Homo sapiens: one gene and its partners. The protein of the gene in region 4 purifies or fractionates together with the protein of the main gene of each other region. This does not show direct contact. Each region holds a gene or a part of one and is shown on either strand. Other genes may lie near its edges.

Region 1 (3,993 bases), on a different chromosome or scaffold from region 4:
TTAAAATCTACTAATTTTGCCAGACACGGTGGCTCACGCCTGTAATCCCAGCACTTTGGGAGGCCGAGGTGGTTGGATCACCTGAGGTCAGGAGTTCAAGACCAGCCTGGCCAACATGGTGAAACACCATCTCTACTTAAAATACAAAAAAAAAATTAGCTGGGCGTGGTGGCGGGTGCCTGTAATCCCAGCTACTCAGGAGGCTGAGGCAGGAGAATCACTTGAACCCAGGAGGCAGAGGTTGCAGTGAGCTGAGATCGTGCCATCGCACTCTAGCCTGGGTGACAAGCGTGAAACTCCGTCTCAAAAAAAAAAATCTAATTTTAAATTGGAATATTGTGTTTATCTGTGTACTATTAGGAAGGTCTTTTATCACTTGCCTATAACTTCTACATTCTTAGGAACTTTTAGATTTTCTGGCTTTTTTTTTGTTTTTGTGGGTTTTTTTTGTTGTTTTTTGAGACGGAGTCTCGCTCTGTCTCCCAGTCTGGAGTGCAGTGGCACGATCTCGGCTCACTGCAAGCTCTGCCTTCCGGGTTCACGTCATTCTCCTTCCTCAGCCTCCTGAGTAGCTGGGACTACAGGCGCCCGCCACCACGCCCAGCTAATTTTTTGTATTTTTTAGTAGAGACGGGGTTTCACTGTGTTAGCCGGGATGGTCTCAATCTCCTGACCTCGTAATCCACCCACCTCGGCCTCCCAAAGTGCTGGGATTACAGGCATGAGCCACTGCGCCCGGCCAGAACTTTTAGATTTTCTCATTTCCCAGTTGCATGTTAGGTAGGATTATTTTAATTTAGCTTTACAAAGTTACATATTTAAATTACGCTAAAATGCAGCTGTCTGCACTCACTGGATTTAAATAGTGTAGCTGATTTTTGTAGCATTACTTTAGTGAGTTAGTACCTACGGGCCAAAGCCTTAAGTGTTAGAAAGGCTAGAGTCTAGCCACAAGTCGAATTGTCAAAGAAAAGCCAAGTATTATACTTCTTTATCTGTCTTTCTGTATCATTTCCTTATTAGGAAAAACTGAGCTGATCCTTCTTAACTAGCTATGTCAAGAGTTTCTCACTTTCTTATGTGAGATAGTTCATCTTCTGTTTTAAGATCAAGAAAGAATCAAGTTAACTAGCGTTCTCTACCATTTCTTAAATGAATGTTATTCCAGTTTCCAGAGGGCAGCGTCTTTTGTTCAGATATTACTGGGCCTTGTGGGAAGGTAATGTGACTTTCCTCTTAGGGAAGGCAGGAGCTAGGGAAAGGAAGGGTAGTAATTTCTTTTCTTTTCTTTTTTTTTTTTTTTTTTTTTAAGATGGAGTCTCACTCTGTAGCCCAGGCTGGAGTGCAGTGGCGTGATGTCGGTTCACTGCAAGCTCCGCCTCCCGGTTTCACACCATTCTCCTGCCTCAGCCTCCCGAGTAGCTGGGACTACAGGCTCCCGCCACCACGCCCAGCTAATTTTTTTGTATTTTTTAGTAGAGACGGGGTTTCACTGTGTTAGCCGGGATGGTCTCAATCTCCTGACCTCGTGATCCACCCACCTCGGCCTCCCAAAGTGCTGGGATTACAGGCGTGAGCCACTGCACCTGGCCAATTTCTTCTTTCTTTTGAAGAATGGGGTCAGTCTGCCTTTATTTGCACAGGGTTGTGGGTAGATTTTCCAGTAAAAAGTAAATAACTGGTAATGAAAATTAGGACTTTTTCATGGTGAGAGATTTTCTTTGCAATATACGCTTATTTTGCTATCTGTTATTTGTGTTTGTACAGATAAACATGATGCTGGCAAACCTGTACAAGAAGGCTGGTCAGGAGCGCCCTTCAGTCACCAGCTATAAGGAGGTGCTGAGGCAGTGCCCATTAGCCCTTGATGCCATTCTAGGTAGAGATATTTCCTGCCTGTTTTCATGGCATGTTTACTGTCAAAGATAGTAGTTCTCAATCTTGCCTGTACATTAGAATAACTTTATTTTTTTTAAAAGTTCCCCTGAAGAGAGTGATTTAGTAGGATTCCTGTTGTCACATATTCAATCAAGAAATACTTAATTATGGTTTTTGGCCGGGCATGGTGGCTTACACCTGTAATTCTAGCACCTTGGGAGGCTGAGGTGGGTGGATTGCCTGAGCTCAGCAGGTCGAGACCAGCCTGGGCAACATGGCACAACCCCGTCTCTACTAAAAATACAAAAATTAGCCAGGCATGGTGGCGCGTGCCTGTAGTCCCAGCTTCTCGGAAGGCTGGGGCATGAGTATCGCTTGAACCCAGGAGGCAGAGGTTGCAGTGAGCTGAGATTGTGCCACTGCATTCCAGCCCAGGGGGACAGAACAAGACACTGTCTCAAAAAGAAAAGAAATACTAAATTATGGTTTTTCTCTCATGCATCGCTCAGAATAGGGAAGCAGTTGCCTTTTAGCCAAGGGAAGATGTAGCCCGTTGCTCCTTGCATGTGGAAGAGAGATATCGTGCCTTACTTTCTTTCTTCTGCTTTCTGTTGGTTTAGGCTTGTTGTCCCTTTCTGTAAAAGGGGCAGAGGTGGCATCCATGACAATGAATGTGATCCAAACCGTGCCTAACTTGGACTGGCTCTCTGTGTGGATCAAAGCGTATGCTTTTGTGCACACTGGTGACAACTCAAGAGCAATCAGTACCATCTGGTGAGAGCCACAAAGTTAATTCAGTGTTCTTGAGGCCCTTTGCTTGTCTGGAAGTCTGATGTATCTGAAGTAGCAAAAAGAAAAATGAGATGCTTTGCTGTTGGTGCTGCAGCCAGTCTCTGGGATGTGTTAGTCTTTTATACTGAATGGTCCCAAATGTAATCATGTAATCATCTCTGTTGGAGACCTGTAAAAATAGAAATCTGACTGAGTTTAGCTCTGTGCCTGCACAGGTAGTAACCCTTGCAAAGCAAAGCAGGCTACCTTGGTGTGTCATTTTTTTTTTTTTTTTTGAGACAAGGTCGGTCTCTCTCTCTCTCTCTCTCTCTCTCTCTCTCTCTCTCTCTCTCTCTCTGTCTCTCTCTCTCTCTGTCTCTCTCTCTCTGTCTCTCTCTCTCTCTGCCTCTCTCTCTCTCTCTGTCTCTCTGTCTCTCTCTCTCTCTCTCTCTCTGTCTCTCTCTCTCTCTCTCTCTCTCTCTCTCTGTCTCTCTGTCTCTCTGTCTCTCTCTCTCTCTCTCTCTCTCCCAGGCTAGAGTGCAGTGGCGCAGTCACAGCTCAGTGTAGCCTTGACCTGTCAATCTCCCGGGCTCAAACCATCCTCCTGCTCAGCCTCCTGAGTATCTGGGACTACAGGCGCATGCCACCACACCCAGCTAATTTTTGTATGTTTTTGTAGAGATGGGATTTCACCATGTTGCCCAAGCTGGTCTTGAATTCCTGGGCTCAAGTGATTCTCCCACGTGGGCCTCCCAAAGTGCTGGGATTATAGACGTGAGCCACCATGCCTGGCCTTGGTGTATCATTCTTCAGCCTGGAAGAAAATCATTTTGCACTCACCAGAAGCTTGGTTTATTGCAGTGTCTAACCTAGCTTGCCTGCTTAGGACTAGGGATTTTCTTTATATTCAGATAAAGTTCAAGGACAAGAAGAGACTTGGGCTTGTGTTATGCAAAGTCGTTTACTTGAGTAATAAATAGGTGTCACTTGTGAATGACATTACCTTTAACACCATGTAGCGTATGTTGTGTTCTGAAGAACTGCAACCACAGAGTTATTTGTTGGTACTGAGAGACTTCTGCTTTATTCTTTGTTTTTGCTATCCTGTCCTATATAACTTTTTTTAAAGTCATAAGCTTAAAGTTTTTTATTACGAAGAATTTTATATTTATGCAAAAGAAAATAGTATCTGTATGACCAATCATCCAGATTCAGCAACTAAGAGGATTTATAATAGATTTAAAGGTTCAATGTTTAATAAATATCTTAAAGTTCACTAGAGAAAAAATCCTTATTGCGAGATAACGTGGACCTATTGGGAAGCTTGGCAGATCTGTACTTCAG
Region 2 (3,501 bases), on a different chromosome or scaffold from region 4:
AGTGCACAGGCCAATCATAGCTCACTGCATCCTCTGCCTCCTGGGCTCAAGCGATCCTTCTTCCTCAGCCTCTCGAGTAGCTGGGACTTATAGGCATGTGCCACCACACCCCACTAGTTTGTGTGTGTGTGTTTGAGACAGAGTCCCGCTCTGTCACCGGGGCTGGAGTGCAGTGGCGTGATCTCGGCTCACTGCAACCTCCGCCTCCCGGGTAGCTGGGATTATAGGTGTGCACCACCATGCCCAGCTCATTTTTGTGTTTTTAGTAGAGATGGGGTTTCACAATGTTGGCCAGGCTGGTCCTGAACTCCTGGCCCTAAGCGGTCCGCCAGCCTCGGCCTCCCAAAGTGCTGGGATTACAGGTGTAATTTGGCCACTGTACCTGGCCAAATTTTTGTTATTGTTTGTAGACGGGGTCTCACTATGGTGCCCATGCTGGTCTGCTTTCCTTTGTATGTGTAACTCAGCCTTAGCTAGGCAGATCTTCCTAACTCAGGCAACAGAGATGATTTTCCCTGCTTTTATCTCTTAAAATCCTACTCATTCTTCACAGCCTGGCTTAGGCAGCGTAGGGGATAAGGAAGGCCAGGAGTTTTCGAGTGACCGAGGCTGAGTGCTCTCGCCTGCAATGAGACTGTAATATCCTTGTATCATGAAGTCACAGTATAAAGCAAATAGATAACCTTGTCTACATTCTTGGCTCTGGTTATTTTCCCTTTCCATCCCTTTAACATTTGTTGAACCAAAATGCTCTGTGTACCCCCACACATTCTAAAATTCACGCAAATTGTAGTTTATGTAAAAATTTATTTGACCAAAATGTAGAAAAAGTGATACTATTACATATGATACAGTTGCAAGAATCTAAAGTGTGGATTTTATTCCATTGCACAATTTGCTAGTGTATTTCCTGGGTAGTGTGGTGCTGAATAAATAGGAGTAGGGTGGTGGGGTGGGGTGGGTAAGGGATTCAGATAAGCCAGAAGCAGGGTGATTTTTAGTTGGAATTGTAAACTTTAGTCAGCCCCCACACGCTGCTGGGGAATGTGGAATGTTCTAGCTCTGAGATGTTAACTGAGAAAAGAGAAGTCAAACAAAGCCGATACGTGCAGCCCTGTCTACAGAATCCTTCATTATCCAGTTTAATCAGGAGTTTCTTGGTCTTTTATTAACTTGGTCCCAAAGAAGGAATTCAAGTCCTAGATAAGTAAATCCTCAATTTGCTGTTCCCTGAAGTATGGAAATGAAGTTGGGCCAGTTTTTAATCTCTGCTGCCAGAGAGGCCCTTTCTGCTAATAGATAAAAACTCTTTTGCTCAACTTAGTAATGACTTGTGGTCTTTTGGATATGGCTGACCTGAATTGGACTGAACTCCACCATATTCCTGCTGAGTGGGTCATTACTGGAATGAGACATTTGCTCTTCAGAGAACAACTTTATTTTTATTTTTTCTTGAGATGGAGTCTCACTCTGTCGACCAGGCTGGAGCGCTGTGGTGCGATATCGGCTCACTGCAGTCTCCACTTCCTGGGTTCAAGCGATCCTCCTGCCTCAGCCTCCCGAGTAGCTGGGACTACAGGCAGGCGTCACCATAATTTTTGTATTTTTAGTAGAGACATGGTTTCGCCATGTTGGCTGGGCTGGTCTCGAACTCCTGACCTCAAGTGATCTGTCCTGGCCTCCCAAAGTGTTGGGATTACAGGCGAAAGCCAACGCTCCCGGCCAGGGAACAACTTTAGAATGAAGGAAATATGCAAAAGAACATCACATCAAGGATCAATTAATTACCATCTATTAATTACTATATGTGGGTAATTATGACTATTTCCCAAGCATTCTACGTTGACTGCTTGAGAAGATGTTTGTCCTGCATGGTGGAGAGTGGAGAAGGGCCAGGATTCTTAGGTTGATCTATCTGTGGGTTATGACTTCCCACAATAGCCACCCCCGGCCCCCACCAGTCCTTTTATTGGCTCTGGATGGAAAATCCCTACCCATGTGATGGTCCCTGGTCTCTCCTATAGTTTGACCAACAGTTGACCCAAAAGGTTATGGTCTTCAGCGTTTTAATTATATCCACGACTAGATACTGGGGTCTGTATTCTTCAAAGTGTGGGGCTGCCTATTCTCCCAGGAACCAAATGGCCTCCGTCTTAAGAAAGTATGCTTACTAGGAAATACCCTGCCTACCTTAGGAATAAATGCTACTTAAGGAAAAAATAAGAGAGCTGAAAAAGCTGGTGCCATTTGAAAAAAAAAGGGAAGGAATGAGATTTAACTGGTGCTCAAAGCTTCTCCGATACAAAATATTTGGTCATGTATTCATAATTTGCTTGACATTTCCAGCAAAGCGAAGATGGCAATAACAAAAGGAACTTCTTACAAGAGAAGAGAAAGACCCACGGAGCTCCAGAGTTTCTGTTGGAACAAGACTCTTCTGTTTTGCTTATATACAGTTAAGTTCGTTTAGTGTCTGATCCAGTGTCTGATGTAAGCCCACGTTCTCTTCTTTGGCCTGGGCAAGTTTCTCTGGTGAGGATTAAGAGTATGGGGAAAGATAAATTAATAAGCGTCTTTGTTAAATGAAAGAAAAAAAAAGATTTGTTTTTTTTTCTTCTTCTTGAGACAGGGTCTCATTCTGTCACCCAGGCTGGAGTGCAGTGGCGCGATCTTGGCTCACTGCAACCTTCACCTGCCAGGCTCAAGCAATTCTCCTGCCTCAGCCTCCCGAGTAGCTGGGATTACAGACGCGTGCCACCACCACCCGGCTAATTTTTGTATTTTTAGTAGAGATGGGGTTTCACCATGTTAGCCAGGCTGGTCTCGAGCTCTTGACCTCAAGTGATCCACCCACCTTGGCCTCCTAAAGTGCTGGGATTACAGGTGTGAGCCACCATGCCCAGCACCCCCCCAAAGATTTCTAAACCTGAAACTGCCAGGGTGAAAGTCACAAGAGAGAAAGTACTTTTTTTTTGAGACAGGGTCTCACTCTGTTGTCCAGGCTGAAGTGCAGTGGCGTAATCACGAATCACCGTAGCCTTGACCTCCCTGGGCTCAGGTGATCCTCCCACCTCAGCCTCCCGCATAGCTGGGACTGCAGGTGCATGCCACCACCTGGCCAATTTTTGCATTTTTTCTAGAGACAGGGTCTCACCATGTTACCCAGGCTGGTCTTGAGCTCCTGGGCTCAAGGAACCCATCTGCTCAGCCTCCCAAAGTGCTGGGAATACAGGTGGGTTATAGCCACCATGCCTGTCCAGTACTTTGTATTTTTAATTACAGCAGAACATCACAGAATACTAAGGAACAAGCACCAAATTTGGGAGTCACAGTTGTAAGATAAAATGCAGGGCGCCCAGTTAAATTGAATTTCAGATAAACCACAAATAATATTTTAGTGTAAGTATATCCCAAATGTTGCATGAGATGTACTTATGCAAGAGATATACTTATGATTAAAAAATTATTCATTGCTTATCTGAAACTCAGATTTAAGTTGGT
Region 3 (3,410 bases), on a different chromosome or scaffold from region 4:
TGACAACGACCCCAACATCTACTTCCTGATCCAGAAGATGTTCTACATGCTGAACACCCTCACGTCCAACATGTCCCAGCTGCACAGCAAGGTGGACCTGCTCTCCCTTGAGGTGAGCCGCATCAAGAAGCAGGTGAGCCCCACTGAGATGGTGGCCAAATTCCAGCCGCCCCCTGAGTACCAGCTCACAGCCGCAGAGCTCAAGCAGATCGTGGACCAGAGCCTGTCAGGGGGGGACCTGGCCTGCCGCTTGCTGGTGCAGCTCTTCCCCGAGCTCTTCAGCGACGTGGACTTCTCCCGGGGCTGCAGTGCCTGTGGCTTTGCGGCCAAGCGCAAGCTGGAGTCGCTGCACCTGCAGCTCATCCGCAACTATGTGGAGGTCTACTACCCCTCGGTGAAGGACACGGCTGTGTGGCAGGCCGAGTGCCTGCCCCAGCTGAACGACTTCTTCAGCCGCTTCTGGGCCCAGCGGGAAATGGAGGACAGCCAGCCCAGCGGCCAGGTCGCCAGCTTCTTTGAGGCAGAGCAGGTGGACCCCGGCCACTTCCTGGACAACAAAGACCAGGAGGAGGCCCTGTCTCTTGACCGGAGCAGCACCATCGCCTCAGACCACGTGGTGGACACGCAGGACCTCACTGAGTTCCTGGACGAAGCCTCCTCACCAGGCGAGTTTGCCGTCTTCCTCCTCCACCGGCTCTTCCCCGAGCTCTTCGACCACCGCAAGCTGGGTGAACAGTACAGCTGCTACGGGGACGGTGGAAAGCAGGAGCTGGACCCGCAGCGGCTGCAGATCATCCGCAACTACACGGAGATCTACTTCCCTGACATGCAGGAGGAGGAGGCCTGGCTGCAGCAGTGTGCCCAGCGCATCAACGACGAGCTCGAGGGCCTGGGGCTGGACGCGGGCAGTGAAGGCGACCCCCCGCGTGATGACTGCTACGACTCCTCCAGTCTGCCCGACGACATCTCAGTGGTCAAGGTGGAGGACAGCTTCGAGGGCGAGCGGCCGGGTCGCCGCTCCAAGAAGATCTGGCTGGTGCCCATCGACTTCGACAAGTTAGAGATCCCCCAGCCTGACTTCGAGGTGCCCGGTGCCGACTGCCTGCTCAGCAAGGAGCAGCTACGCAGCATCTACGAGAGCAGCCTGTCCATCGGCAACTTCGCCTCGCGCCTGCTGGTGCACCTGTTCCCCGAGCTCTTCACGCACGAGAACCTGCGCAAGCAGTACAACTGCAGCGGCTCCCTGGGCAAGAAGCAGCTGGACCCCTCCCGCATCAAGCTCATCCGCCACTACGTGCAGCTGCTCTACCCACGCGCCAAAAACGACCGCGTCTGGACCCTGGAGTTCGTGGGCAAACTGGATGAGCGCTGCCGGCGCCGGGACACGGAGCAAAGGCGCTCCTACCAGCAGCAGCGCAAGGTCCACGTGCCGGGCCCTGAGTGCAGAGACTTGACCAGCTATGCAATCAACCCCGAGAGGTTCCGGGAGGAGTTTGAGGGGCCCCCACTGCCCCCCGAGAGGAGCAGCAAGGACTTTTGCAAGATCCCCTTGGACGAGCTGGTGGTCCCCTCGCCTGACTTCCCGGTGCCTTCTCCCTACCTGCTGTCTGACAAGGAGGTGCGTGAGATCGTGCAGCAGAGCCTCTCCGTGGGCAACTTTGCCGCCCGGCTCCTCGTCCGCCTGTTTCCCGAACTCTTCACCGCCGAGAACCTCCGGCTGCAGTACAACCATTCCGGGGCTTGCAACAAGAAGCAACTGGACCCCACGCGGCTGCGGCTCATCCGCCACTACGTGGAAGCCGTCTACCCGGTGGAGAAGATGGAGGAGGTGTGGCACTACGAATGTATCCCCAGCATCGATGAGAGGTGCCGCCGCCCCAACAGGAAAAAATGCGACATCCTCAAGAAAGCAAAGAAAGTGGAGAAGTGAAGGCCCGTGACCTGCCCAGAGATTCGGGGTCACCAGAGGCTGAGCGATGGGCACCCTTGGGACTGAGCAATACTTGGGAGCACGCCTATGGCATCCACAGACAGGCACCTTATGTCCGTGGGGAGTGGCTTACTACATTTGCACACGTAAACACCCACCCAACCGCAAGAAAGAAGCCTTGAGTTTGGTCTCTTGTACTTACAACTTCTGTCCTATGTGCCCCGGCGGGGCAGCCTGAGTGTGGGGAGAGCAAGCTGTGAGGGCAGGGACCAGAGGTTAGGGGTCCTCTCTCCCTGGTTGTGCCCTCCCCAGCCCCTCACAGCTTATAATGCAAACCCAGCAACTCTCTTGCCCCTCTTCCCATATTTTACATCTTCCATTTTGACCCATTTTTTTTTAATTAAAAAGAAACCCTTAAAAAAAATCATTGGGCTCTTTGGGGGCCATTTTACTTAGAAAAAAATCTCTTTAAAAGTGCCATGTTCGTGCACAGTGGCTAATCATAGCTTCAGGTGGCATGGATACTGATTTTACTGACCTTGTTTTTTACATCTGATTTTGGAAGAGTCAAGATGCCCCTTGGATGGCAGTAGAGGGGATGGAATAGTGCGAAGTCCTTTACGACCACATGCAAGTTTTCCCTTCTGCTCTGGTGCCAGGGAAGGCTTCCGTTCAGCTTGGCCTGTCCTTCAGGCGCGTTGGTAGAATGTTGTGTCACTCTTTAGGCGAGAACACTGGATGATGATGATATGAATGTAGACAGCCGTGGAAACACGTTCGCAGTGTCTCCATCTGAGCCGTGTCCTTCCGCTGCCCCCATTCCTTCTCCATACATGGTTGCTGGTTGGAGGGAGTGGACATGTTTCCTTGGAAAACAGTGCAGGGGCTTTTGGCTTCTTGTTAGATTTAAGGGTGGGCCTCTTTGAGCTCACCATGAACTGTTTACTTTTCCGTGTGTGTATTTGTACAAAATCCAGGTTCCGGGAGCTTTGTGGTGACTTCCCCAGACCTCAGTGTTAGCTACTCCAGGCAGTACTACATCCTCATTCCTCAGGGCGGGCCCAGGTCTGGGCCCCTCTTGGGGATACCATGCATTGGAAGGACACAGGCCATTTTAGATGGGGTACACATGTCCCTTCCCAGGGTCCACTCAGAACTTTCCTCTTGGACTCTCTAGAAGGTCCTGCTGTCCTATACCTGGCCACCCCCTGCCTTGGGGGGCACATGTCTTCGTTCCCTCCCGACTGGGAATGTCAGGCTCCTGCAGGCCAGCTGCATGCTCTCCAGGAGCACCAACTGGGAAATCCCCTGACAGGTAAAGTCCTTTAAAATGATACTTTTACCTACCTAACTCTGGGGGCCAAATGCTTAAGAGGGAAAGGAAACAGTCGAATGCAAACAGTGTGTCATACCAGAGTCCTGGAAAATTTATTGAATCACACAGGGTAGTCATAGAACCCCTGTGGGATGGCTTAATATT
Region 4 (3,911 bases):
AAATGAAAATAACACAAATTGAAAACTATAGTGACCATCTTGGGTACGACATGCAATGATACTATCACTACTATTTTGACAGCATGACAACTGAATAATTAGAAGATACACATGCATACCACTATTTCTCTATTAAGAACACATACATCTCATATAAATACATCCTCAGGAAACACTTTTTACATTAAATCGTTTTTTGACAATAATTTTGCACTGAATAACAATACATTACAACTCACTGTTGTACACCTTCAATTGCTAAAACGGTATTCTAGATGTTTACACAGAGAATTATAGGAATATGCACGAGCACTTCAAGAAAAGTTGTGTGAACAATGTTTAAAGTAAAAAAGTGTTTTATAACCAAGCTGTACGGACATTAGGGGGTTTAGGTCTTCTTCGAGGGTGGCCACTGGAGGGGTCAACCGCTGATCGCTCACTCCTACAACTGAGACCACTCGTAGCACTGGATGTCCTGGAAGCTCCTGAAAATATAAAAAGAAGAAATATCTGAGAAACTTCTCCTCACTTGAAGTCCAGACTAGTTTTTCTTCCACATTCTATGTGTGTCTAATAGTCTAATGCTATGATTCTCGACTAGGATGCACTTCAGAATTCCCTGTGGAAGTTAAAAAATATAATAACAAACATATCCAGATGCCACACCAGGGGATTTTGATTCACTGGATTGGCGTGGAAAACAAACATTTTTAAAAGCTTCTCAAATAATTCACGTGAAAAAAATGACTTTGTATAACCATTTATATATCTAATCAACAAATAACTTACTACATTTAGGGACAATGCTAAGTATGAGTTACTAAAATAAGACCCTTTCTTAGTCACTATACCACGGAAGCAAGGTTTGGAGAAGGAATAAATGGAACTACTAGTCTTGAGAGTTGAAGACTCACGAGGGCGGGCGCTGGGAAGTTGTGGCATCGGGCGGTTTGGTATTCCCTTCTATTTATTATATGGTTTAGAATGCATACATGAAGTACAGCAGAGACTTCTGTAAAGGACACTGGCCTTTCTAGATGTTGCACACTCCAGCACTAAATGGTCACTCCATTCCTGTACTCTCTGGGGCACACAGCTGGCTAGGTCTGTAACTGATCACACAACAAGCCTTACTGCTTACTGTAAAGCGGTAAGGCTTGTTGTGTGATCAGCTTGCTAATTTTTGTTTTAGTTATCCAGTAAGTAAGAAAAAGCACATATAAGGGCTGGAGGCTATTAGCAATGATTCTTAACTACCTAAGGAGAATGTTTTAGCAGCTTTTAAACAGCACACCTATGTATTTCTTCCTTCAATAAACTTTGAAATTAACAGTCCTTCCTCAATTACCTAAGAACCTACTGATATTTTTGATTGTTTTATCTCCTGGTTTCCTTCCTGTCATTATATGCTGTAAATGAAACCTGAAATTAAGTGAACTAATACAAATAAAACAAAACATGACAGTGGGAAATAACAGAACGCATTCCAGAGTTGGCATTTAAAACTCTATCATAATAACATGTTACGTTTTTTTAAAAAAAGGATACAAGATACAAATAAGTATAAAATAATTTCCAAAATGCTTACTTAATGGGCTATATTGGCCAAGAGTGGATCTGGCCCGTCTTGACAATGGTGATGAGTTGAGATAGCCCATATTGCGATGATAGTCCATCAGTTGTTCTGAACGTTTCATACCAACTGTTGGTTTCACGGCCTCAAGCCTTTTCAATAAAGCCTTCAATAAAGACAATTAATTTGAAAGGCAAGGTTAAACAGCAATCATTTTTAACAAGGCAATACATTCTAGAGCCTGACATTCACTTTCTTTCTTTTTTTTTTTAAGAGACAAGATCTTACTCTGTCACTCAGGCTGGCCTGGAACTCCTGGGCTTAAAGGATCCTCCCATCTCAGCCTCTCAAGTAGCTGGTATTACAGGTGCCACCCACCACATCCCGCCAAAAGATCTTAAATCATTCTCGACATACCATGTGAAAAACATTTCAAATAATATAATTTCATAAAAATCCAAGGGTTTTTGCCTATCCCACAGCTAACCAAACCACTGTGATATAACAATTCATCCAGAGGTGTCCAATGGAGAGAATACAGTCATGGGTTCTTAGTTTCTGTTTCTGGTTGGGCCAGTAAAGCCCCTTCCTCATCTCTCTTTTCTGCATATCACTAGAGACAGAAACTAAAAACCATGGCTTCAGGCTGCTAAAAGCCTAAAACAGAACAACAACAACAAACAACAAAATAAGGTAGGTTAGACAAGCTTGCTAGAGGCCTAATTCTTTTGTGCCAGGTTAGTCTTAGGAAAGGTGCTGTAAGTTGAAATAAAATACACTAAACCTGATTTTCTCATAGACATGATGTAATAGGAGTTATAATGCTAAGAACCTAGTGTTAGACCCTAGGAATGAGCACACACATATGGAAGCTACTACAGATTCTCCACATGTACATTGCAGAGCAGTGCCTTTCACCCTGTTCCTTTGCAGTAGTGCCTCAAGGGCTTGTAGGCCACTGGGGAAAGGCCAGCAGGGAGGGCCCTCGGGTCTTCCACTGCTAGTTTCTACTAGCCCAGCTATGCTTTCTGTATTGTCTGTTTTATATACTAAAGATTCTGCATAACATTTAATTTGGAGAAAAAAGCTTTTGCTGTTAAGAAGTCTGAAAACCAATTAGTATAGAATATAAAGTTTTTAAAAAGATATGTAGCCTGGGCACAGTGGCTCACACCTGTAGTCCCAGCACTTTGGGGAGCCCGGGGCGGGTGGATGACCTGCTTGAGTTCAGGAGTTCCAGACCAGCCTGGACAACATGGCGAAACGCTATCTCCATTTTAATAATATTTTAATAAATTTTAAAAAAGGATATATATACCAATTGGCCAAGGCAACACAGTATCCAATAACATGGTAATTTTTTTTACAATTCAGTAACAGAGACTCATGCAGAATGTTATAAATTTTGTTTATAACTATTTCTTAAAAGGTGAAAGAGTTTATCCTGTTGGCTTTTCGTAGGCATTGTTGAGAAAGAAATACCGAGGTAGACCAAACAGCTTGGGGAATTGATCCATGATTGTGTTTTATTCTTTTCTTTACTCATTCAAACTTTCTCTGAAGGAAGCTGATCTTATTTGCAAAGGGAGTACTGACCTGCACTAAGTTTCACACTAAAAAATCAGACTCATGAATTCAGTCATAGGACAAGTTTTCTCTGTACAATCTTTTCTTCTTTCTTCCTTTTACTGTGGTAAAATGAAACCACATTTTAACCACTTCTAAGCATACAGTTCTGTGGCATTTTGTACACCCACACTGTTGTGAAACATCACCACCGACTCCCATAACTTTTCTTCCACTTGGTGTTTTATCAGTTTCACCCCCTGCCCTTCCATGCTGAGTTCCTGAGCAATTCCAAAGAAGGAACAGATGGTGGAAGAATAAGCCAAGATATCCAGGGGAAGGGCCACTTAGAAAAGGGAGAGGAGGAGGTTGTTATAGAAACAAAAGGAGGCTTGGAGGCAAACAGCAGAGGTGCAAAACACATGAAGAACCGGACAGAACCACTGAGAACATCTTTACTGCCTCCCTGCATGCTATTCCTTCTGCGTGAAGTGCCCCTTCCTAATTTTTGGCCTTCAAAAGCTAGAAAAGAGTCACCTACTCAAATTACCCAACTAGTATTAGTGGTTCCCTTTGCTGAGCTGAGTTTTTATTTCAACATGATTCCACCTGACTGTAAAGTCCACGGTCTTCCCATCATATCCTCTTTCTTGCATTGTGGACAGAGAAGCAGTGTGATGTAGGTGTCCAAACCTCCTGAAATCATATCTTCTCTACCTGCAGTTTGTAACTGTGCAGGAACTTCCTGGGGCCACATCTCCAGTGTATTCTA
Region 5 (3,993 bases), on a different chromosome or scaffold from region 4:
CTTGGTCTGTCTACACTGTGGCAGGGTGGGGGACACTGGGCCATGCCATTCCCAGCACCCTGAGGCAGCCACCCCAGGAATGGGGTCCTCCCACCAGGGCCTTGCCGCCTGCCTTTCCTGCCACCTCTAGCACCCTCTGAGCCCAAGGGCATCGGTCAGTGGGCCTGGCCTCATCTCTCTGGAGCCCAGCGGGCTGGACTGCTGCTTCAGCACTGAGGGCAGGGCCTGCGGTTACAGTGGAGGAGCTGGAGTGAGTGGAGGGAGGGATGAGGGCTGAGCGGCCACCACCTGTCCCCTCGGCTGTCCCCAGTCTTAGGGGCCTCCAGGGTGGCCCAGGGAGAGGAGAGGGCTTTCCAGTGAAGTCAGGAGGACTTCCTGGAGGCACAGGGTAGGGACAGTGGCAAGGGGACCATGAGGAGGCAGTGGGAGAGGGTCTTACCAGGCTCTGTGGCTCTTGGGGGATCCATGGAGGCTGCCTTGCTGCCCCCGTCGGTGTCCCCGCGGCCCCGGGCTGTCTTCCGCAGCTGGAAGCCCTTCCTGATGTCAGCCAGCAGGGCATCGATGACACACACCTCCTCCTGCTTCCCGGGCCCCTTCCTGACTGAGGAGCGTGGGGCACTCAGAGAGCGGCATGGGACCCTGGAGCCCACCTAGAGGGCTGGGGGTGGTGGGGAGGCTGGAGCACAGACAAGGATCCCAGAGTCACCCCCTCCCCGCCCAGCCGGCCCAGCCTCACCAGGCTTCCCGTCCTCTCCCCGAGGCCGCCGCGCCTCCTCCTCCGCCAGCTGCTGCTTCCTCCTCTCTGCCTTCGCCGCCTGCTCCTTCCGGTCCTTGTTCTCCTGCACTGGCAGATGTGGCCCCGTCACCCCAGCGTGGCATCCCTCAGGGGCTCCATGGGCCTGGGCGTCCCCCTCCCTGAGCCGCAGCAGCGCAGGGCCCACATGGCTGTGTCGGCCCGACGAAAGGTGCCTCTGCCCATCCTGCCGGAGGAAGGCCAGGGGCCTCGGGACCCCACTCTAGCCAGACAGGCTGTGTCCCGCCGGGCTGCCCCACCTTCAGGGCGCGGAGGAAAAGGTCCCGGAAAGCCTTCATGGTGCTGAACGTGTCCTCCAGGGACAGCTGCTGGGCGTCCTCACACAGGTAGTCGGCCAGCTCCCGTTGCTTCTGCTCGATGGCCTCAAACAGCTCATCCAGTGCCCGGAAGGCCGAGATGCTGGCCTGGGGGCAAGGGCACGTGACAGTCCCGTGAGAGCCCCGCGCGGGCACCACCCGGGGTGAGGCCCTGAGTTGCGGGAGGGTGACGGCCACAGGGACAGGCCCTGAGGACGGTGGTCTCTGACAAGGAGCAGGGGCCTGTGCCCTGACCATGCACACCTGGGGAAACTCGGGCCCCAGGATCCACCCTGGAGCCAGGAGACAGCACAGCCACTCGCCCAGCTCACTCTATCAGGGCAGCCTCTCCCGCCAGCCCCAGGCCCAGGTGCCCACTTGCCTGGAGGCGCTCGGTGTACTGCTCCTGGACCTCGGCCACGGAGGCAGACACCTTCCGCTCGGTCTCCAGAAGCTTCTTCAGGTTGGAGCTGGCCTCTGAGCGGATGATCTCCAGGTTGATCCTGAAAGGTGAGGAGGGCCGGGCAGAGACAGCAACGGCTGACGTCAGCCTCGCTGGGACAGGGGAGCCCCTCCCCTGCACCCCCCGGCACCCCACTGTGCACCCTGCAGGCTGTACTCTGAGGCTGCACGTGCAGTGTTGGGGTTGAGTGCCTGTTCCAGCTGACCCTCAGCCCCCTGTGAGCATCTGGGCGGGGACCCTAACGGTCAGCCTGTCCTGCTTGCCTAGTTCTCCCCAAGGCTGAGCAGCTCCTGAGCCAGAGAACCTTCCAGGGCAGGTGGAGCCCGGGAAGAACTCCGTGCTAGGGGCCCGGACTGTGTAGTGGGGTGGCCCAGGCTGCCCTCCTGCCTGGGTTGTGTGACCCAGGAGGTGACACTGCTTTCCTGGGCCTCCGTTTCCTCATCTATACAATGAGGGAGGCCCGAGCCTGCTCACGGCTGTCGTGAAGGTCCACCTTGTGAAGGGGCTGTATTAGACCTGCCCGTGGTGTGACCCTGACCTGGCCAGCCCTTGCCCACTCTAGGCCTGTTTCCTCGCTTAAGTCAGAAGGGGATAGGCCACGGCAGACCCGGTCCTGTCCCAAAAGGGAAGTGTTCTATTGGGCAGGGCTCCGTGGCGCCGGGGCTGCGCTGCAGCTGTGAGACCCAGCCCTGGCGGGCAGCCACCTCACTGCCTGGGGACAGAAGTCAGGCCCCCACCTGGCTGAGGTGGGCGGGCTGGCAGGAGCTACCTACCCTGCTGCTTGCGAGGGCTGTTCCAGGTCCCGGGGCAGCTGCAGGAGGTCGGGGTGGCTCTTTTCCGCTTCCTGCAATGGGACACGTCCAGTGAGATCCACTGTGGTCATACTCTCCACCTGGGGATGACCCTGTTCCCACTCCCCCAGCTCTAACCCTTAGCAATTAAGGTCCAGAAAACCCCCAGTACTCCAGACCCTCAAATCTTTCCCTTGGGCCTGGCTATGACTTTGTGATGTTTCTGCTTTTCCTAGGGACTGTCCCCCAGATCAGGGACAGGTATCCTGGGGAGGGACAAGGCTCGTGCAGGGGAGCCAGTGCTGCAGGAAGGAAGGGGTGCTGGGAGGGGTGGGGGCGTGGCTCTGACTGAGGCTGCTGGCTCTAGACGGAGCCCTGAGACAGGGAGACCGGCGGCCTGAGTGGTGGGCATGGGGGTATGGCCTCTACGCCTCTACACCCCAGGTCCGGGGGGACTTGAAGCCCTCCCATTATGCCCCCGCCACCACGGCCCACCTCCAGCACGTGGTGCAGCAGCGTCACGCGGTTCTGCTGGGACTTGGTCTCCGTGAGCTTCAGCAATGTGCTGATCTTGAAGCCGTCGGCGTCACCGGTGTGGCTGCCCTGGGAGGGGCAGGGAGTGAGTCTCACCAGCCCCTGGCACCAGGTGGGATGGGGAGCTGCCCCTGACTTACGTAGTTGAGGAAGTTCCCAATTCTCAGGATCAGCTGGCAGAAGATGGGCAGCTGGCGGCTGGTGAGCAGGCCTGCAGGGGCAGCCAGGGCTGGAGAGGGGCTCTTGGTTCGGAGCCCCCAGATGCCCTGGCGGTGGGGTGTGGTCCTGCTTGCCAGTGCCCCTGCACTCCCTGGCTCCTCCCCAGGCTCAGCCCAGCACCGGAAGGATCACAGGACAGGGCCTGGGGGCTGCAAACCCTCCACCGACGGGAGTGGACACCTACAGTGTGCCTGACAGACGTGAGCTGTGCCTCACTGGTCCGTACCTGTCCCTCTCCCTGCCCAGTGGCTGTGGCAGGTCCCCATGGATTCCCCTTTCAGAGATGGTGCCCGTGTGTGTGCACTTATGTCTGTACATGTATGTGAGGGTGTGTGTGTTGGGGGGGTGTGTACGTGTGTCTGTGTGTCCTGTGTGCATGTGTGTGACTGTGCTTGTGGGCTTGTGTGTGTGCACGTGCCCGAGTGGCGGTGTGCATGCGTGTGTGCACGTGCCTGAGTGGCGGTGTGCTTGTGTGTGCGCGTGCCGGAGAGTGGCAGTGTGCTTGTGTGTGTGCACGTGCCCGAGTGGCGGTGGGCATGCGTGTGTCTGTGCGTCCAGTAGGTGTGTGCACCGAGGTGGTGGCAGCAGGGTGGTTTCCGGAGTGGTGGTGAAGGCTGGCACCCTTAGGTGCTCTTAGCAGCCATTATGATACTGGCAGTAGCAGGGGCCCCGAGCAGCCCTCCCGCCCCGGTTCGGAGGCCTGTCCCTCCTGCACACGTGCCCCGCTTGGCCCCACTCACTTTCGCAGGCAGCCAGCACCAGCTGGGCCTTGGGCCGCACCATGTCCAGCACGGCGGCCGCGCCCTCACACAGCAGCATGCACTCGATTCGCAGCTGGTAGCTGGGGATGGCACAGACAGGGATCAGTGGCCTGCA
Region 6 (3,993 bases), on a different chromosome or scaffold from region 4:
ATATTGTGCATGCATTACCATAAGAGCAAAGCACTCTGGGATCCTGGAAAGAAGGGAATATGGATTAGTTTGCAAGTCAGGTTTTGCTCTGGGAGCACATTGCAATACTCACTTCCTCCTTGGAAACAGAGGTGTGGCCTTCCTCACATGACCTTCGATGCTTCCAGGTGCCTCTGGTGCAACAAGGTTCCCGAGAACTGCAGGACTCTTTTCATTTGAGACCAAGCCCGTATTCCAACTGCGGGAGTCTCCCGAACACCATCCTGCCAGGTGAGCGAGCTATCCCTCAGCTTCTTTACTGCTTTTATGTTGTTGTGTGTTCAGGAACCTTCATAAGAGAGTTTAAACAACATAATATTATATAAAGCAAAAAGTTAACGTTCCCTGGGTCGACTTGACTTTTTGAGATGCAGGTGTCCAGCCTCAGAGACCGTGACACAGGGCGGTGGGCCTGGTAGTCAAAGCCTTTTCTGAAAGATTTCATCTGGCCCAGTGCGGTGGCTCACGCCTGTAATCCCAGCACTTTGGGAGGCCGAGGTGGGCGGATCATCAGGTCAGGAGATCGAGACCATTCTGGCTAACACAGCGAAACCCCGTCTCTACTAAAAAATACAAAAAAAATTAGCTGGGCATGGCGGCGGGCGCCTGTGGTCTCAGCTACTCGGGAGGCTGAGGCAGAATGGCACCAACCCAGGAGGTGGAGCTTGCAGTGAGCCGAGATTGTGCCACTGTACTCCAGCCTGGGCAACAGTCTCCAAAAAAAAAAAAAGATTTCATCTTAGGTGACTGATGACTGTTCAAAAGGAAAAAACCTGCAAAAATTGGGAGTTGTGCAACTGACTGACAAGAATGTAGATTCCAGGGCAAGAACTGTGGGCCTGGGGGTGGTCAGGATGTGTGGGATAGCAGTTTAGGGGACTGTCATCAGCTGGGTTTGCTTAGTAGCCTGGAGCCTTCGCGCCTCCTAACCGCACTGTTTTCCCCTCTGGCCACTCCTTTCAGAAGACTCCAGCACCAGCCTGTTCAAAGACCTCAACAGTGCGCTGGCAGGCCTGCCTGAGGTCAGCCTGAACGTGGACACTCCATTTCCACTGGAAGAGGAGCTGCAGATTGAACCCCTGAGCCTGGACGGACTCAACATGTTAAGTGACTCCAGCATGGGCCTGCTGGACCCCTCTGTTGAAGAGACGTTTCGAGCTGACAGACTGTGAACAGAAGGCAGTGGAACAGAAGAATGTTTTTCTGCAACAGCCAAAATAGAATGGAATAGAATGAAGCCAGCTGATACCACGGGCTTTCGTTATCTTGACATAGAAGGAAGCAATGCCACGGCTCCAGGGTTTCAGATGAGATCCCATCTCAGACACTGTGGCTTCCTCCAGATCACACAGCTTTGTACTGCCTCTCCCGCCTGTGGCCAAAGTCGTGTTGCAGCAGGCAGGCTGCTTGGAGCTTCCCATGAACTGGAAAGCTCACCTCCACTGCATCTTTTTACTGGCCATCCAGTCAGCCGATGTGTAAGAGTAGGAAATACTGTGTCACTGGAGGCCTCCGTAGCATTGTGTAGTGTGCTCAGAACCACTGATCTCCGTCCGCACCGAAGGCGGGCCCGGAGTGGGAGGCTCGGCCTGGGGCGGCGGCACCGGAGAGGGCACCTCGATGCCTGCTCTGACCTGACCCAGAGGGCGAGGCCCTCCAGCGGGGGACATTCCCAGGCTGAGTGGACCCCACGGCTCTCTCCCACGCCTGGATTACGACATGAAGTTTTTACCACAAGCCCGAGGGCAGGCTTGAGTTAGGCAGACTGAAGGCTAATTTTCATTTTCTCCCAGCTGGTTTCTGCTGCTTCAGAAAAGTACACCTTTTCCTTATGGACCAGAGGAAGAGGAAGACCATTTTATCAGTCACTGAAAAGAGTCCCCTGGCACTGATGAGCCTGAAGAGAACTGTGCTCCTCCTCGGGGGCTGGGGAAGGAAGACAGGGACTGCAGGTGTCTCATACTCAGTGGCCTCCAGACAAACTCCAGACAAGCACAGACCTCCCCACTAAGAGCAGCCAGAGGGAGCTGGTGAGGCCCTAACCCCACCCACCGAGCAACTGAGCTTCCCCATCCCTCCCCAGAGCTGTGTCTCTGTGGGCTGGGAGTCTAATGTCACCCCCCTAGACCGTAAGCTCCTTGAGGGCAGGGACAGTGCCTTATCATTGTTGAACCCGTAGCACCTAACACGTGCGTGGCAGCACAGTCGTGTGCTGGAGTGAGTGCTGCAGAACCGTGCGTGCAGCGCATGATGAATGAGTGCGTCCGCCATGCCGTAAGGCAGGCTCACCTGTAGCTATCCCCTTCCCTGCCAGATCTTCTCAGAGCTTTAGCTTTTCTAGCACTCGTGCCTATGGTGAAGCATGCACTTTAATATGCTTTTAACACTAGGTGACCAAATCACAGTGAAGCCGGGCACTGCATTCTCCTTGGGCTGTGCTCCACGCGGGTGGGTGGGAGCTGTCTTCTGAGTACATCCGGAAGGGCTGAGCAGGTGAGTGCCCTGAGCATCCTGGCTGGGCCCCACCCAGGAAGATCTTCCTTCTCAGATCCACGTTTGGCTCTAAATTGCTTCAAGTAGAGATTCATTCTTTGAGGTTGAAAAAATAGTTTATAGTAAAACGAAGGCCTAATTCATGGAAGCATCATTAGTCATCAATACCTTCTCATAAAATAGATGGGCCAGATTTCCACCACCGCCTGCCTCCTCTAACTTGGGTGATGCCAGTAGGTTTGAAGGGGGCAGAGCACTGCAGGGGGAGGGGGGGGTCTAGGCTGTGAGAGGACAGGGTGGAGAGGAGGAGAACCCTGAAGGAGAGACGGAAGATGCCAGGACCTTTGCTTGGACAGCCATTGCCCTTCCAGGAGACCCTGGAGTGTACTGAGGGTTGCTGGACTGTTCCACCCAGAGGAGCAAGGCTGTACAATGAGGGTCTGAATCTGGCACACCTGTCCCTTATGTAAAAGGAGTCGTGGTCACAAGACCCTGGGCTGGTTAGCCTCTCCCGACCTCATTCCATTTCTATCTTCTGACCTTGCCTCTCATCTTTAAAATAACCCTCATGGGGTGCCCCTCCACCTTCCTCTGGAATCCAAGTATTCCTGTTTCACATTTGCCCCAAATCTTTGCTGTGGAATTGGGAAATCAAACCAGAGTCCTCCTCGCCTGATTTCCAGCTCAGGAAGGGCCTGCTGGCCTGCCCTGTTCCCAGTTACACTTTCAGATCCCTTTGTGCTCAAGATCTCAGAGGGGGTGGCTTTTTGTTAAAGAGCCTTCAGTCGCAATGCTACCCAGCACCCCATGTGCCAAAAGAAACCAGCTCCTGTGTCAAAGGGCTTCCAAACCTGATCTCACTCTCAACAGGCGATGGTGCTGATGTTTCAAGAATTGTGTTTTTATAAAACAGAGGTCTCAGCATAGTCACTCTTCACATAGTGCCTTACCCATGGGTATCGTCATATCCGGGTCCCAGTTCAGTTTGTCTGCACAGCAGCCACCCTGCCTGGCAACAGAGACCCCAAGACCTACACAGTGAACCCTACTGCCCCAAAGGCGTTCTCCAGGTGACTTGTGAAAACAGACCTCCGGGGAAGTGATTTATTGGGGGTGTACACTGGGGGCAATATGGTTTAGCACTGAATTCAATTTGTCCTTAGGTCTATGAGTGAGTCCGATCTTTTCTTGTGAAAGGTTTTGGGCATCGTACAACCCACTCTGCCTAGAAGGTGTGGAGGACTCACCACGGGCAGGGTCGCCCTGGCCCACAGCACGTGAGCCTGCACTCACTGCGGCCTTTGTAACAAAACCAGTTGTGGTCCTCAGCATTTGAAGCAGCTGCATACTTCAGAGTAAACTATTTTTCATTATTTAGTTTTGTCACAAGAAATCGACCATTGTACTACTCTCACTTACAGCAGTTAAACAGCATAGAACTAAAAACCTGTCTGCATTTCC

What was found.
Region 1: the proteins of CFAP97 (region 4) and ANAPC7 purify together in Homo sapiens (affinity purification with mass spectrometry; one large-scale study listed by BioGRID and IntAct). This does not show direct contact.
Region 2: the proteins of CFAP97 (region 4) and TPM4 purify together in Homo sapiens (affinity purification with mass spectrometry; one large-scale study listed by BioGRID and IntAct). This does not show direct contact.
Region 3: the proteins of CFAP97 (region 4) and BEND3 purify together in Homo sapiens (affinity purification with mass spectrometry; one large-scale study listed by BioGRID and IntAct). This does not show direct contact.
Region 5: the proteins of CFAP97 (region 4) and INF2 purify together in Homo sapiens (affinity purification with mass spectrometry; one large-scale study listed by BioGRID and IntAct). This does not show direct contact.
Region 6: the proteins of CFAP97 (region 4) and CRTC3 purify together in Homo sapiens (affinity purification with mass spectrometry; one large-scale study listed by BioGRID and IntAct). This does not show direct contact.

The regions. Positions count from the first base shown.
Region 1 is NC_000012.12:110,386,398-110,390,390, reverse strand, and holds part of ANAPC7 (anaphase-promoting complex subunit 7), read left to right. Parts: intron 1-1,767; coding exon 1,768-1,879; intron 1,880-2,498; coding exon 2,499-2,652; intron 2,653-3,921; coding exon 3,922-3,993. UniProt on the Homo sapiens protein: Component of the anaphase promoting complex/cyclosome (APC/C), a cell cycle-regulated E3 ubiquitin ligase that controls progression through mitosis and the G1 phase of the cell cycle.
Region 2 is NC_000019.10:16,100,292-16,103,792, reverse strand, and holds the end of TPM4 (tropomyosin alpha-4 chain), read right to left. Parts: intron 2,530-3,501; coding exon 2,447-2,529; 3' UTR 791-2,446; downstream 1-790. UniProt on the Homo sapiens protein: Binds to actin filaments in muscle and non-muscle cells. Plays a central role, in association with the troponin complex, in the calcium dependent regulation of vertebrate striated muscle contraction.
Region 3 is NC_000006.12:107,067,224-107,070,633, reverse strand, and holds part of BEND3 (BEN domain-containing protein 3), read left to right. Parts: coding exon 1-1,930; 3' UTR 1,931-3,410. UniProt on the Homo sapiens protein: Transcriptional repressor which associates with the NoRC (nucleolar remodeling complex) complex and plays a key role in repressing rDNA transcription.
Region 4 is NC_000004.12:185,162,441-185,166,351, forward strand, and holds part of CFAP97 (cilia- and flagella-associated protein 97), read right to left. Parts: intron 1,740-3,911; coding exon 1,589-1,739; intron 486-1,588; coding exon 358-485; 3' UTR 1-357.
Region 5 is NC_000014.9:104,710,053-104,714,045, reverse strand, and holds part of INF2 (inverted formin-2), read right to left. Parts: intron 3,959-3,993; coding exon 3,858-3,958; intron 3,110-3,857; coding exon 3,039-3,109; intron 2,968-3,038; coding exon 2,860-2,967; intron 2,418-2,859; coding exon 2,347-2,417; intron 1,614-2,346; coding exon 1,493-1,613; intron 1,219-1,492; coding exon 1,054-1,218; intron 840-1,053; coding exon 737-839; intron 602-736; coding exon 440-601; intron 1-439.
Region 6 is NC_000015.10:90,640,930-90,644,922, forward strand, and holds part of CRTC3 (CREB-regulated transcription coactivator 3), read left to right. Parts: intron 1-112; exon of another isoform or gene 113-167; coding exon 168-270; exon of another isoform or gene 271-328; intron 329-1,002; coding exon 1,003-1,211; 3' UTR 1,212-3,993. UniProt on the Homo sapiens protein: Transcriptional coactivator for CREB1 which activates transcription through both consensus and variant cAMP response element (CRE) sites.